2 separate regions of the Homo sapiens genome follow, and region 2 is linked to region 1. A link means that fine-mapping ties the variant in region 1 to the expression of a gene that starts in the linked region. Tissue or cell type: tibial nerve. Region 1 holds a variant in brackets; the other region holds the start of a gene. All regions are shown on one strand. Distances are from middle to middle.

Region 1 (8,189 bases):
TTGTAAAATAAGTCTTTCATCTTTCAAGCAACAATTTGTTTTGCCAAGAATAAAACTCTTAAACACAAACACATTACAAATGGACTTTAATTATGTTCCAAATGTGATTTCTTTGCTTATGTTATTTCTATGTTCTGCATTTGTATGTAACTTGTACTTTACGTTGTTTCTCTTCTTTGTTCTCATGTTAGAGAATTTGAAAATGTGGATGATACAAAAATCATTATCATAGTGTTCAGTGGCCTGGTACACCTACGACCCCCAAATTTAATTCAACATTTATCCAGCATGTACTAATTGCTCTGCACGCACATTAATTGGGAACCTATGGTATTCTAGATGCTTCACGACATAAATTTATTAGATGCCTCCTATTGGCCAAGGTTCAGAGCTGAACTACATGCTGTTCCTACCCACACAAGGTTCACACTAATTAATCTACCATCATATATAACATGTGAAACAAAATGATTGGCTATTTTACTGCTGTTTCCCAGCTTCCAGTTGAATATTTAGACAGTTCATCTTGAGAAGCTTGTTCCATTTGTCCCCAAGCTGGATGGTTGGCATTGTGTTCAAAATGTTCTTGGGCTAAGATCATGCAAGCCCTAACAAGAAATGAGTTTTCCAGAATCGTCAACATGAAACGGCAAGTAATTCTGTGCTCACTTTTAGCGTGTGAAACCTCAAATGTCATTTTTCTAGTTCTCTGGGTTTCTGTCTGCCACTGTGTAAATAAAGGGGTTGGCAAGGTGATACTGACTACTCCTCCAGTTCGCATTCTATAGTTCTATTTAGACAGCTCATTTGATCACTGGACATTTCTATGTAAGAATCTATGAAACAAGCTTGCTGGAACCAACCTCTTAAAAAGTCCCTGCTCTACAAAAGATTATCATGTCCACCCACAGACAACAGGAATTCTTTTCTGGTCATCAAAGAATGTATTCTCCTTGTTTACAGCAGTGCATGTCATCTCTGGTAACAATGATGCTATAAAGGTTTCCAAAGATTTGCAGCAAAGTGTGACAATTTGTGCAAGGACTATGCAAAAGGCTTAAGTTCTATATGCATATAGGGTTATTTCCATCTCTATTTATTGATACACATGCACGTCTATATGTATTTATGCCCATATGTGCATAGCATGTAATGAGTTATATATGCATAGTGCCAGGACTATGCTCATTTTCACATATAATTCTCACAACAAACCCCAAAGTGTTTGTCCAGTTTTCCAAAACAAAAAACTGAGGTTGGCTTATAGATTGAACATAATTTGCCTAAACTTAACAGTGAGAAAGTGACGGAGCTATAAAGTCAAGTTTATCCAACTCTGAAGGAAGGACACTAAAAATTTACATTCATATAAATATAAGGATTTCACATGACATAAGTTGTTAGAAACTGGACTGGTAGAAGATTGAGAATTGTTTCAGTAAGAAATATGCAAATCCTGTAGGCATTAATTTGCTCCTGAAAGTCTACCATCCTTATGCTCATAGAGAAGCCATCTATACAGTAAGGCAAGACTAACCAGAACTGGAATACAATCATTAAGAAGCAACATATAAATATTGCTAAGCTTACCCCTTACTAGCAAGGATGTCATAACATAACCACAACAATGTAATGGAAAGTTAACATCTAGGAAAGCATTAGCAACAGCTTAAAACACATAAAACAATTATGATGGTTGCCTCACTTCCGTACTTTCTTTAGTACAATTTATGGCAATTCACATTCCACATGTTCTAACACCAGTACACAAAATAATGGCGAAATCTAGGTTTGTGAAACAGCATATATACATTGCTTCTTTGTTATTTCCAATATACTTATATAACCAAAATTAGTAAATTACTTTAAATAATTATGTCCAGTTAACTTCATACTGTTGGTATCCCCAAAGCATCTTGAGAGATGCAAACAATGCTATTAAATTAACAAGGAGCAGGTTTGCATTTCGCTATGTAATATTTTAGTGCTAACATAGGATTTCCTTAGTACCCTGCTACAGGAATTATACCTATTTATTCTGGGGCCAGAGAATTTGATGTATATTTAATGTTAGCCTAAGAAACATAAAATATAGTCCATACGATATCTAATGTGTTTAGTTTTCTATGCATTTGTATGGGTTATTCATAGAGATTTACCTGGAGATAAACATTGTATTAAAACATATGAAAACTTTAAGTTAAATGTTTTGCTTTCCAAGTTACTGAACTGGTTTCCAAAGGACTTTGCCATTCAGAAGGATGAAATATATAAAACACATACATAACCCTTTTAATATGAAGTCTAATCAGAAGGGTGGTAGTATATTTGTTTCTATAAGTAAAAAATTGTGGTCCCCACTGATAGGGACAGGAGAGAGGGAAATACTGAGTAGACGAATGCTACCAGGAAAGACCCCAGCCTTAAGCCTGGAAACCCACAGTCCTAAATGAGAACAGGCATTCTTGTTTTCACGCCCAAAAAGTTGCCTTCTGGCCTACTACACCCTTGATCTTGTACCCATATAAACCCCGAACCCCAAGCTCCAGAGGCAGATGAGCAGATGAATGGCAGAGCGGCATGGCAGAGAAGGAGAGTAGAGAAGAAGCATATGAACACCGAGAGGAGTTTGGCTGGGGACCGTCAGAGAGGAGATCGGCCACTGGACAACCAAACTCCAGGGTAAGATCATCTTCCCACTCCATTCCCCTTCCAGCTCCTCATCTATCCCACTGAGAGCCACCTCCACCGCTCAATAAAACCCCTGCATTCATCCTTCAAATCTGTGTATGACCTGATCCTTCCTGGACGCTGGACAAGAAGCTGGGTACCAAGGGGAGTCCACTAAATTGCTTAACACTTAAGCCGTCTGTGGACTGCAGAGCTAAAAGAGCAAATGTAACAGTGGGGCTTCAACAGTCACAGGCACCCAGCCCTAGATGCTGCTGTGGGGCCAAAGCCCAAAAGCGCTCACCCTAGTTCGCACACCTGCCCATCTTTGTGCTCCCCCTCCCATAAGGGTTTGAGCTAGCAGCAGCCAAACAGAGAGCCACATCCCTGTCACACGTCCTGTGAGGTGGACCAGGAAACTCTCCTGTCTTACTACCAGTTGTTTTATTAGGTGGCCTCTAGCAGGTGGCTCAGTCTTTAGATCAGAGTTTCTCAATGAGAGGCAGAGGTACAATAGGGGATCTGTCACATTGCTTTTTCCCTTGCCAGGTATTTTAGAATCTTGAGATTGAAAAGAGTAGGGCATATAAATTTTTCAAATTATATTGAGCATTTTAATAGATTTTCGAAAACAAAAATATTCTTATAACAATACAGACTAAAAATTGGTAGAACCTCAATTGTTGGCAATATTCATAGATTTTATGATTTCAACTAGGGGGTAGAAGACATAACATGTCCAGGAGGCCATTCCATTTTTATTTTCACTAGCCATGGACATACATGGACTTACTTTTTTTAAGAAACACAACTTTAGATGGCTTTTAAATCAGCT[C/G]TAAACATTCTCATGCTCTGTGACTTACGGTTTAGGCACTACACCTTGATTCCTGAATATACTATTGGATTATAACTGAGCTGTTTTGCTTTTCACCCTGAGTTTTACAGGAATTTGAGAATGCTGGTCAGACAAAAAAGTACGTTGTACTGGAGATTCCTGAGATGATTCTAAAACCGTCCTGAAAAACAGTCATACAGGAGTAGATTACAAAGACAACACCTGCTAGGGAAATATATATCTTTGAGACATCTTCTGACTAATAAGTCTCCCTGTCATTTGAAAATGAAAGGAAAATGAGATCTGGAAGCCTAAAATATCACAAATGTTTTGGCACCTAATATTTTGGTGTGCTGGGCCTGGTCTGACTCACAATAACCTGCAAGAGTGTATTGTGTACATCTCTACGCAACAGCTTGAAGTCACTCATGATAGGAATCTTTATGCCACTGAAATTAGCAAATGCCACAAATCAAGCCTCTCACCTCTACCCCCAAAGATAGTTGTTAAACATTTAGTAACATTTATGGAGGAATGAAGGAGGATTCCTTAAGGATATTTGTTTTTGAGTTTTCCATGTAATAAAAATGCCATAGTTTATGGTTTGTTTATTCAATAACTTTCTCAATAATGTTTATGAAGGGGATTTTGTTTTCCACCTGAATGAGAAGGCAAACTGAAGCATATCTGAAACTCTGCATGTAGTTGTGCTTCCTGTCCTCAGGGGAGATGGCATAAGGATAGAGATAGAGAGCTTCTTGACAGGGACAACACACAGCCTGAAAGAGACGCCTGAGAAGGTGCTGGGAGTAGTCTCCTCTATGGAATAAGGCAGGCAGCAAGGTCAACAGGTGCCACCTTACTAGGGAAGAAAATGTAGGAAGAGTGAAAGGAACTTATGAATTCAGACAATGGGTATCAGCTTACAGGAATCATTAGCCTGACAGGTAGTAGTAGGTGATTCAAAAAAATTTAAATAAATTAAAAAGTTGACAGAGGTACAAAGGAAGCAACATTTCAAACATATTTCTCGTCTCTGAGGAGGGTATTTGGAATAAATTCAATTCTCTTCATAAACTATGCTTTTCTTGCCAAAACAAAATAGATCACAGCTCTTATCCACGCAGGAATTCCTTTGGTTTGTATGTAGAAAGGTAGCTCATCCTTTCAACATTATCCAGAATTAAATGTAGCCTTTATAACCCTTGGAAATAACAATGTAACACTTCTTCATAGGTGAGTAATAAATGACTTTTTCCAAAATCAACCATCAACCACAAACACTTGGCTTGCCTAGTGTTTTAAAACTGGAGAATATTAGGACAGGCTTATAATGGCAAATATTCCAGCTCACATGCCCACACAAAACCTAACTGTGCTTTTAGGGAAAATGACCAATATGAGCTCAAGGACAGTATTTTGTTCTATTTAATACATTGCAAAAATCATCTCATATCTGTAAAATTATGTACTATTTCTCTCTCTAGCTTAATCTATATCCTGACCTATCCATGCAGGAGAACTTTCTGTTCCCATTAAAATCTTATAGAGAATATACCTTTTGAATGAAAGTGAGGTGGGGAAATAAGCTAATGACCCATGGGTTATATTTCTAAGGTCTTAGCCCAGAGATGACAGAGTACAGGAGAGGTTAGCTCCAGTTGGTATGTAACGAAGCTAGAACAAAGTAAGGCCAAACAACAAAGCCGATATGTGTATGCAGGCTGCTAAAAATCCAGTGATCAAAGCAATTTAATGCTTGGGCCCCAAGTGTTTCCTGTTGGTCCAGTGGCTGATGACACACTGTCTAATAGGATGGCAACAGGGAAAATTAGTCCTCCAAGTCTCCTTCTGTTGGGAAACAAGATTACTCTCTCTGGATTTTTCAGTTCCATCTACAGTGTGGTTCTCAAACATGCCTGTACACTGGAATCCCTTGGGGAGCTTTAGAAACTAATGATGCCTTGGCCCTAGCCCCAGAGATTCTAATGAAGCTGTTCCAGGTTCAGCCTGGGCATCAGGATTTTTAAATGTTCCACAGTTGATTCTAACAAGCTAAAGCTGAGTTGTTGATTCTGCGGCACAAAGAGACTAAGTAGTGCTTCTCAAATTCTACCCTTGTAGGTCTGAGTAGGGTCTAAGATTCTATATTTCTAACAAGCTCCCAAGTGATGCTGGTGTGGTCCAGAAACAAGGCTTTGATTAACAGGGCTCTAGATCAGCAGCCACAATGAGGTTCCTGAAGCAGCAACAATGTCACGTGGAAACCTGTTTAGAAATGCAAATTATCAAGCCCAACCCCAGATATACTCAATCAGTCATGGGGTGGGGCAGGTGGAAGAGTAGCAAACTGCATTTCAACAAGCCCTCCAGGTGATTTTGGTGCCAGCTAAAAAAACCAAGGGTCAGAGCGGTATTATTCAAAGTGTGGTTATCAGAGCAGCAGCAGTAGCATTGCCAAGGAGTTCATAAGATGAATTCAGGATTTCAGGCCCCACCCCAAACTTGCTGGATCAGAAACTGCATTTTAATGACATCCCAGGTGGTTACTATGCATATTAAAGTGTGAGAAGCCCTACAGTCTTGGCAAATTTCCTCCTCAAAACCGTTGCCCAGAATGACAGATAAAAAACCACTCATTTGAAAAAAAAAAAGCCTAACGACAACGTTAATTATAATTGTAATATCTGGTAGGTTTCTTTTTAATTACAAAAAGCCCCACATTTTTACAGTGACAAGTTTTAAAACATGGAAAAACCTCATCAAACAAATGGAAATCACATGTGATCCCACCAAGCAGCTAAAACTATTGATAACTTTATTCTTCCATCCAAAGAACTGTTTCTAAAGAGAGAATAAAAACAAGTTATTGAAAGAGACAATATTATCCTGCTCCAACAGACACTTGGCAATGTTTCAACTGAAACTTTCACCTATCAGTGTAACTTCCCAGTGGGTTCACCTAGCCCGCTGCCTAGACAGACCTGATTTATCAAGACAGTGGAATTGCAGTGGAGAAAGAGTAACTCACGCGGTGCCAGCTGTGCGGGAGACCAGAGTTTTATTATTACTCCTGTCTCCTGTAGTTAAAGATAATTTTGTGGGTAGGGGCTTGGGAAGTGAGGAGTGCTGATTGGTCAGGTTGGAGATGGAATCATAGGGGGTCTATGTGAGGTTTTCTTGCTGTTTTCTGTTCCTGGGTGGGATGGCAGAACTGGTTGAGCCAGATTACCGGTCTGGGTGGTGTCAGTTGATCCATCCAGTGTAGGGTCTGCGAAATATCTCAAGCACTGATCTTAAGTTTTATAATAGTGATGTTATCCCCAGGAGCAATTTGGAGAGGTTCAGACTTTTGCAGCCAGAGGCTGCATGACCCCTAAACTGTAATTTCTAATCTTGTAGCTAATTTGTTAGTCCTGCAAAGATAGACTGATCCCCAGGCAAGAAGGGTGGGGGGGGTGGCTTTTCAGGAAAGGACTATTATCGATTGTGTTTCAGAGTCAAACCATGAACTGACTTCCTTCCCAAAGTTAGTTCAGCCTATGCTCAGGAATGAACAAGGACAGCTTAAAGGTTAGAAGAAAGATGGAGGCAGTTAGGTCTGATTTCTTTCACTGTCATCATTTCCTGAGTTATAATTTTGCAAAGGTGGCTTCATCTTTAGCCCAATGTGACAAAAATACGAGTCTCTTGTTTAGAATAATGTTGGTTACTGAAGGAGATACCATGACATCGGTTCCTGTGGTCATCTTGGGAATAAAAAACCTCTTTGCCATGTTTGAGAATGTTGAAACCAAGTTATTTTGTTCTAAGTTAGAAGGTCAGAGCTCAGACTTAAAAATACCAGCCAGTAATGAAAAACAGAGCGGCCGCATTTAGGTTACCAGCAGTGAATAAATTCCCAGATAGTTGAAACACCGCTGTATACTGGTGACCTTTAAACGTATAATGAGTAAATAGTTTGGGGGGAAAAAAAGGAATTCACATGGATCTCAAATTGTATTCTCTTTCAATCTGTAACAGATCAGCTTTTCTGTTAGAGGTCAGATTGTTAAAATTTTGACAAATTTGGCTGCCTAGAACATCTATGGCCTTAGCTGTCAAATCAGAAGCCTAGCAAAAGAAACTGGAGCTAGACTGGTGAAAACTAAAATTTAAACTGTTGCTTTTTGATATGATTCTTGCTTTAGAAAGCTGTCAAGGTATTCAGCAAGTGTGCCAATTTTCTTAAATGAGTCTGAACTTCAAGACCCTTCCCTTACCTGGGTGAATATCTTTTGCATCAAATCCCAATGTAAGAATGAAACTACACATTGGGATAAGGAGCTGGAACAAATCATGCTGTTTCTGTACAAAGAGAAAAACATACTGGACTGGACACAGCACACAGTGATGGGAAGTAGAGTAACTTGAAAACCAGAAGATGAAGAGTTTGGAGGGGGAGTCAGGGCTGGGGGTTATAATAGAAAAGACATGTGGATGGCAATGCCTGTCAAAGAGGCACCAAGGAGAAGGGGATTGCCAAACTGTGTTAGGAAAAAGGTCACTGGATCTGTTAGAACCTGTGGAACTGGTTAATTACCTTATAATCAATATAATAAAATTACATGTGTGGCTATTTGATTATCATTACCCCATTGCAAAGAAATACAATGTTAATTTTCTTAGTTTTCCTCCTAATTTG
Region 2 (8,189 bases), 64 kb after region 1:
TAGGATCAAAATGACTGCTTTATTATCAATCAAACCACATAAAGTTGGGTCAGGGCAGAAAGGACTGGACACCAGTTCTGGATATAACTGACTCATTTAGCAGTATGCCTCTAAAATCCTTTCCCAGGCAACCCAACCCACCCACCTTGGTTCATAAACTGCCTGTGCCATATCTGGCCTCTGGTTTCCCCTCACAAATACTATTTTCCAAACTTACATCTGTTTATTTCTTCTTTACCGCTGCCATGTCCCTTAAATATTTTTCTCATGTCTAAAAACTCCAGAAAAAAATCATTAGCTAAAATTAACTAAGCATATCAATGGTTTTGAATATAGGCAATGTTTGTATTCCTGTGTTATAAATCGGGAATCTCAGGTTCAGGTAATTTAAGTAGCCAAAGGTCATACAAGTGAAGGTCAGTGCTCAAATATGAATTTGGGGCTCTTATTTGAACCCCTCTTACTTTCCATTAGGCCATGCTGCTGCTAGTAGCGGTAAAGGAAGGACACAAGGCATAACAGTCTATGAGGCCAAAGGCAGTAAGAAACAGTGTGGAATTGTGTGTGGCACATAGTAGGTACTCGTGCTGAAAACAACATTGAGTTACTCAATGAATATACAATTGATTCCCAGATTCCATGGGCTTCAAACTCATTTCTACAATCCATGATTTCCTATTTCTTCTCCATGCTAAGCAGAGCCTGCTGCCATATGGTAACTTTGCCAGTAACAGTCTAGCTGCTTCTAACCAGGGCCTGCTTTCCCTTGGCTTTAGCACTCAAAGGTCAACTTGACCTTGCAGGGAAAGTGAGCAGGGAGCAAGCACCTCTGAGGACACGGCAGACAGCTGCAGTGTGGCTTTGACATTTACAAGAAATGAAAGCATCTCTATTTAGAAAACTTTTTTAAAGATACAGAAAAAGTAAGTCTAAAAATAGCCAAGATCTAAAGTTCCCCAAATAATTAATATCATGTCCCCATAACCTAAAGGATTCTCTTGATTTCAGTGGAAAAAAACTCTGCTTTTAAGTTTGAGAGACCTTTTTTCTTGCAGAAAACTGGGCAACATATTGTCTGATTGGGTAACTTCTTTGAAGCCTGCCTTTATTAGGAGTTAGCTGCTAGTCTGCTCTTCCTTGGATCTCAAATATTTTGGTTAAAAAAAGCAGTATTTTTAGTATTGCTGATTTATAGTTATCAAAAGGCTATGATTGCAGATCATGCACAGTGCATCCATCTGGGCAATTATCTTTTGGTTCTAATGGTTAGAACTGTGGCAGTTTCTGAGGTGTTAGAGTTCAGGTTCAATTCAAAGCATCAATGATGCTCTTCATACTAGACCAGGATCTGCCTCTGTAAGACAGACTCAATTCCCTTCTCTTCTTTTTTTGCAACAACCACAGCCATTACCCCAGCCTCAAATTCATATCCATTGGTTCAGAAGCCCTAAGGAAGGGCATTGATTTCAGAGAGGAAGCCCAACATGTGCAGGATTTTTTGCCCTGGATCCAGTGATATCTTTGAGAATCAGAAACACTTATTCTAATGTATTTTAATTTACTTTTCAAATGGAGCATTTAAACAAAAACTGTTTATTGGGTTCAAATTCAGAGCCAAGTTGTGTGTCGAGAGAGTCTTAATTTTTCATAACAGGACATGTTTGGCTCTAATGTGTGGGTTATGAGTCAATATATCAAATTTGACTAAAGTATTTGCTCTAAGTAGGGAGCAAGCCATTTAGCATTACAAATCCTGAACTTTTTGCAGGAAGGAGGGAAATAACTTTGATTTCTAAGCTCTCTTATTAAGATGAATCAAAGTTGATGAATAAACTTTCTGGATTGCTTAATACCTTCCAGATATCAGTATCAAGGCCTTGGCAAGGCAGGTGAAAATATTTCCATGAGCAAGAAGCAATTGAGAAGGACTTCCTCTGTGGGATAAATTCTTGGTAATTCCTGTGGGAAATTTTCCTTTATCCTAACATCTTTTTTTTTTTTTTTGCCTTGCCCAATTCTCAGTGTTTTTAAATACACAAAATACGGCTTTCTACTAAAAACTGGTAAATGAAGTTGGAAAAATACAAACACACACACACACACACACACACACACACACACACACACACGGTAGCCCTTTTATTGCAGCCATGTACGTAGCTTCGCTGAAGAGTTGACAAGATATATTGTGCAGCCACAGAGAGACACCACATCTTCCTTCCTCCCAGCACAACTTGTACAGTGATTAAATGTGATTAAAGTCTCAGGAACTTGGACACAGTCATATCTATTTTGGTACCACTGTCTTGATCCATCCCTACAGCCAGAAGGGAATCACCCTCTTTGTGTAAATGTTTGCTTTGTTGGAAATTCTCAAGCAGAAATTAATAGTATACATGCTTCAGGAGGAGTAGTAAATCAAGCATGATAAACAACTCCTAGGCAGTGTTTAGACTGGCCAAAAGTCATCTTAAGAATCGTGCACAATGATAGAATACCACGTTTGGCATCTATACACCAGAACTATCTATAAACAAAAAGCAAAATGGAGATCTGTCAATTAACCAACTAGTCTGATTAATGGGATCTGTCAGCATAGGTGGATAATAAATGACTAGAAAAGTAGCAAGTCTCCACTCATTCTATGTGGTGTAGACACAGTTAAATGAATCATGAATGTTTAGTGCTCTTTATAGCAGTTAGCGAACACACTTGGAACTTGTCTCGAAATTAGTTTTGATCTCTTGTTTGAAGTCAGATGCCAATATTCTAGACCCCTATGACATCATCTATTACAGACTCCTGGTTATCGAAGAGTTGAAACTAGTCAGATAGAATTGGCATGAAAAGAATTTTCAACAGAAAACAATCATGTTCAAGGAAGCCAAGTCTAGGATTTCAGGAGCTCAAAGTTTCAAATATTTTTATAAAAACATACATACATACACACACATACATACATTCATGTGGAGAGAGAAAATGAAAAGCAAGAAGACCTTTTCTTCCTTAGTCCAAATCCAATTTAATAATTATCCAGGGTATTCTCAGTAAAAACCAGGTATTTATGCCTCTATATGTATGTCACCAAAATGGAGCCAGCTTACCTGAAGGTCCTCTGAGGCTGTCACTTTCCTCTAGTGCTGTCCCATAAACCTGAAGGATATACAATAACAAAGGGGACAATTCCGTGGGACGAAAATCTTATTTTAAATAACTTCTCTATACTGACTTCAAGCCAAATGAAAAAACTACAGCTTTTTTGGAATTTTATTCCATTTCTGTTGTCTGATTCATAAGTGTTGTTAAATATTTACCAGGAACCTGCCAACAGTTTCTCAACATTAGTTAATCATAGGTAATGCTATTCCATTAACAACTCAATAAACTTCTTTAAAGTTGTACAAGGTAAATTTCAGTACCTTAACACTGCTAACCCATCCTTGTAGAATAAATATTTGCTTTGAGTTTCTCTATGCCAAGATTTATGGGATCAAGTAATCTAAATCTCCTTTTGTAAATAAGGTGTGCCCTCAAGAGGATGAGAGTGCAGACTCTACAGTCTTGTCTGCCTTCTCTCCACAGGTCCTTGAATAAAGCGTTCCATGTCTCCAGATAAACAGACTTGGGGCACTTCTGACCAGTATCCCAGCAGCAGAGGCTTTGGGAAATATTTTCAAGACGGTTCAAGCCTCCCTTCCACAGATTCTCTCACATCTGCCAGCCTGAAGTGGGCTGTGTTGGTTCATGTCTACCAGGACACTAAATGGCTGAAGGCCATTTTTTCTATTCTAATTATTGTTGCTTCTTTGTAACAATTTTTATAAAAGTCCAGCCTAATTTCTTTCCCAGCACACATGTATCTTCAGACACACATCTAAATCCAGGCTTTCATGATTAATCCTACTCTGAGTCAGCTGGGATAGAGCTCTGATGATGGGATATCCTACATGGTCATTAACTGCTGTTTGCACAAACACATCACTCAACGTGACTTCCACTGGATCTACCTTGTATGCAGAGTAGAAAGCTGCTTGTATGGAGTGACTTCTCTGTTGCCTGACCAACCACATGCAAAAATAACCTTTCCACTCACTGATACTGAATTCTACCAAAGAAGACAAGCCATCCAATCAACAACTCTCATAGTAAAGCACATGGCAAACATTATAACTGTATTACTGTATTATAAAACTGTATTATTAAAGTCTACTCTTACAGAATACTCGAGGAAATTAAAAAATGACAAATTCTCATTTATGTACACACCACTTATATCAGGTTCTTCTGGAGAATATATTCTGTTTGACGGAAGAGGAAGGAAGAGAGGATAAATTATGTTTATTGGAGAACTACCTAACCCAGACTTTGTACTAGGTGCTTTTTGAAAATTATCTCTTTAATTTCTGCAACCACAATAAGCCACAGATAACCCTGTCTTTGCTTCAGAGATGATTGTGCCCAGTCTCATAGGAGTTAAGCAATTTTTCCCAAGTCCTATAGCTGGTAAATAATCAGTTTAAGATTCAAGTAAATCATTTTATCAAAGCAACATTGAGGCAAGAAAGAAGAGTATGATATACAATTTTTAAAAGCCCAGACACCCACACATTTCCTGTAAGGAAAAAAATGTATTGATGTGTATGATAAAAATTAGGCCCTCAGCTCCTTGAAAAAGAATTGTTTGAGCCCCTGTAAATCTTTACCCAGTTAGTGTTCAAATAAATATTCCTGTAAAGATATCTTCAGGGTGAGAAAAGCCATAAACAAACTCCATTGTCATTTCCAGCATTTAAATCAGGACTAATCACAAGGAGCCAGTGTTAGCCCAATCCCCCTCACCTAGTTCCCCTCACTCTTTGCCAATACGCAGTTTTTAATCTGTTTCAGGAAGGAGTCCGAGGCGGTTTGGAAATACAAATTAACCTGAAACTACTTCCTAAGGCATTACCAGAAATCACGTTTTAGATGTCAAGATGACTTGCATTGTTCTAAACTTCCAGGCTGTGCCAATGGCCACAAAGGTAAATGGGGCATTGGGACAACCATGTGAAGGACTAAGTTGCAACATGAAGCAAGCACACTCTTCCGCATGAGTCACCTGAAAATGAAAAGAGAAGAATAGCTGGAAAAGATGATACTGTCTGACAACAGCATTTCAAATAAGACACAAAAAACTTGTCTGCATTTGCTTTCAGGTCATGAAATACCACATGAACTGAATGTTTGAGAACCCATTAGCTATGGATCACCCTGATTCAACAACCCAATTAATCATATTCTCAGGTCTATGGCATAATCAGTGTTTCTCAACCTACACTGCGTAATAAAATTACCTGAGGAAATTTTTGGCTTTTTGAGTGTTTTTATTTAAAAAGAAAAAAAAAATCAATGCCTGGACCCCAATACCAAAAATTTGGATTCATTGCTATAGGGTAGAGGCCAGGCACTAGTATTTTTAAAAAAGCTTTCCAGGTGATTCTAATGTGAGTCATGGTTGAGCACCACTGTTAGTTGTATGAAGTGGATTTAGAAATCTTATCCCTTAGACCCTTAGGGTTGCCAGAGCTGTCATGGCTATGAAACCTGCAAGAATTTGGGCAAGTTACTGGTCCCTGAGACTGTTTCCAAATCTCCAAAGTGAAAGCCAGAACACCTTTTAGGCACATGCTTTATCATGGAGGCCTGACGATCATGGTTTCAAAATAAATATCTGTGAACCTAGATACTTTATTTTCCTTCAATCATTTTTGATTCATATGTCTTTAGAATGTACACTGAAATGTAAATTGTATGTGAATATATCTTCCACATGTAACAGCATTACTTCTTTTGACTATGTAACTTAAATTATGTTTTCAGGATGCCAAAACAATTGGCTCAAAAGTAGGAAAATATTGTTACCTAATATTTGCTGCGTCTCTATATCCCTAAGTTAGAAAAACAGCACGTTTTGATTTTATGTTTGTTGATTTTATTCTATTTAAAAAAGACCAGCTACCCCATATTTAGAGGCTCCTACTTCATATCAAGACTCAAGTTGCAAGTCTTGGAAACAAAATAAAACCCCAAACTTAGTGCTTTAGACTTTTTATACATCCTACCCTATGTTACTGAGAAATTTGTTGTTGTGAGAAGGAAGACTTTAACTTGCATATGTACATATACATGCAAGTATGCTAGCATGATTCCTGAAACAAAGTGTTTACTAGATATTTATTAAGATTGTTTTTAAATATGAACTTCAACATCTTGATTGAATGATGAAACATGGACATATGAATCAAACTTTGGTATCTGCTCACTATCAAATGCTATAGAATCAAGAAAGTGAGAGCAACAATATTTCCTGTGCAACACACTACACACCTTAAATTTGGAAATATCTTTTGCTTTCATGAAAGTTTTATGATAATTCCTATTTACAAATTTTGAGGGGTGGTTTATAATTCTACTGTATTCTGTATCTGTAATCAAATCTTTGACAAATCAGTTGAATTTTCCCCCACAAACATAAAAGACACAGAATCAATAAATAAAAATACTAAGATACTTCACACAGCATCTTTTGACATTTGTAAAGAATTTTAGAGTACAAAGTAATTCTCTTTTAGTGAATGCATGGATTATACTATTATATAGAAGAGCACTACTTAGATCATAGTAGAGAAGGATATATCTACGACCCTATGAGACTGATGCTGCTAGTTGTTGCCAATATTTACCCTCACACTTCATTCCTTGGGGTAGCAATGTGCCCTGGCACAGGTGATAGAGTATGACTAGACTGACCAAGTCATAATTTTGTTCCTTATTTCCCAGTCTCCCTTGCAGCCAGGTATAGTTATGTGGTCCAGTCCTGGCTATGAGAAGTACAGGGAAGTCTCCTGGTAGGCTTCTGTCATTGTGCTTTCCTGACAAAAGGAGATAGGCACAAGAGGCATAGCCCATTCCCTCCAGCTTCCTGCTTAATGAGGCATCCTGTAATTAACTGAAGTTTCAGAAGCTATCTTGTGACCATAGGCAGCAATCCTAAGGATAAAAGACAACAAAACAAGGACAATTGGACTAAAAGATAAAAAGATCCTGGATCTTTGATGGAAGCATCAGGGAGCTAAATCAATGCCAGCAAACACCTACTCTGGACTTCCTATTATATGAGAAAAGTAAACTACTTAGGAGAAAATCATAATCCCCATGTCTGAAAGAGATTTTAAAGCATGTATTTTCTCACAAATCACCACTAAAGAACTTACTCATGTAACTAAATACAACCTGTACCCCAATAACTTATGGAAATATAGAATAAATAAATTTCATATGGGATCAAAGAAGACCCTGTAGAGCCAAGACAATCCTAAGCAAAAAGAATAAAGCTGGAGGCATCACGCTACCTGACTTCAAACTATACTACAAGGCTACAGTAACCAAAGCAGCATGGTACTGGTACCAAAACAGACCCATAGACCAACGGAACAGAACAGACCCCAGAAATAACACCACACATCTACAACTATCTCATCTTTGACAAACCTGACAAAAGCAATGCGGAAAGGCTCTTCTACTCAATAAATGGTACTGGGAAAACAGGCTAGCCATATGCAGAAAACAGAAACTGGACCCTTTCCTTACACCTTATGCAAAAATTAACTCAAGATGGATTAAAGACAAGTGTAAAACCCCAAACCATAAAAACCCTAGAAGAAAACCTAGGCAATACCATTCAGGACATAGGCATGGGGAAAGACTTCATCTCTAAAATACTAAAAGCAATTGTAAAGAAAGCTGAAATTGACAAATGGGATCTAATTAAACCAAAGAGCTTCTTCTGCACAGCGAAACAAACTATCATCAGAGTGAACAGGAAACCTACAGAATGGGAGAAAATGTTTGCAATCTACTCATCAGACAAAAATCCAGAATTTACAAGGAACTTAAACAAATTTACAAGAAAAAAGCAAACAACCTCATCAAAAAGTGGGCAAAGGATATGAAGACACTTCTCAAAAGACGACATTTACGTGGCCAACAAACATGAAAAAAAAGCTCAACACCACCAATCATTAGAGAAATGCAAATCAGAAACCACAATGCGATACCATCTCATGCCAGTCAGAATGGTGATTATTAAAAAGTCAAGAAACAATAGATGCTGGCAAGGCCATGGAGAAATAGGAACACTTTTACACTGT

Evidence for each region. PIP is the estimated chance that this variant, and not a neighbour inherited with it, causes the effect.
Region 2: LINC02889 starts here. The variant in region 1 is fine-mapped to the expression of LINC02889 in tibial nerve (GTEx, PIP 0.93).

The regions. Positions count from the first base shown.
Region 1 is chr7:17,491,957-17,500,145 of GRCh38, forward strand. The region is part of intron 1 of LINC02889 (long intergenic non-protein coding RNA 2889); the gene reads right to left. Among named protein-coding and RNA genes, the nearest start is that of LINC02889, 63 kb to the right of the region's middle. RefSeq lists a silencer at 620-779. The variant C/G (reference allele first, on the strand shown) is at 3,506.
Region 2 is chr7:17,555,648-17,563,836 of GRCh38, forward strand. LINC02889 (long intergenic non-protein coding RNA 2889) reads right to left here and starts at 3,262. Exons shown (of 4, transcript NR_110013.1): 1 at 3,105-3,262.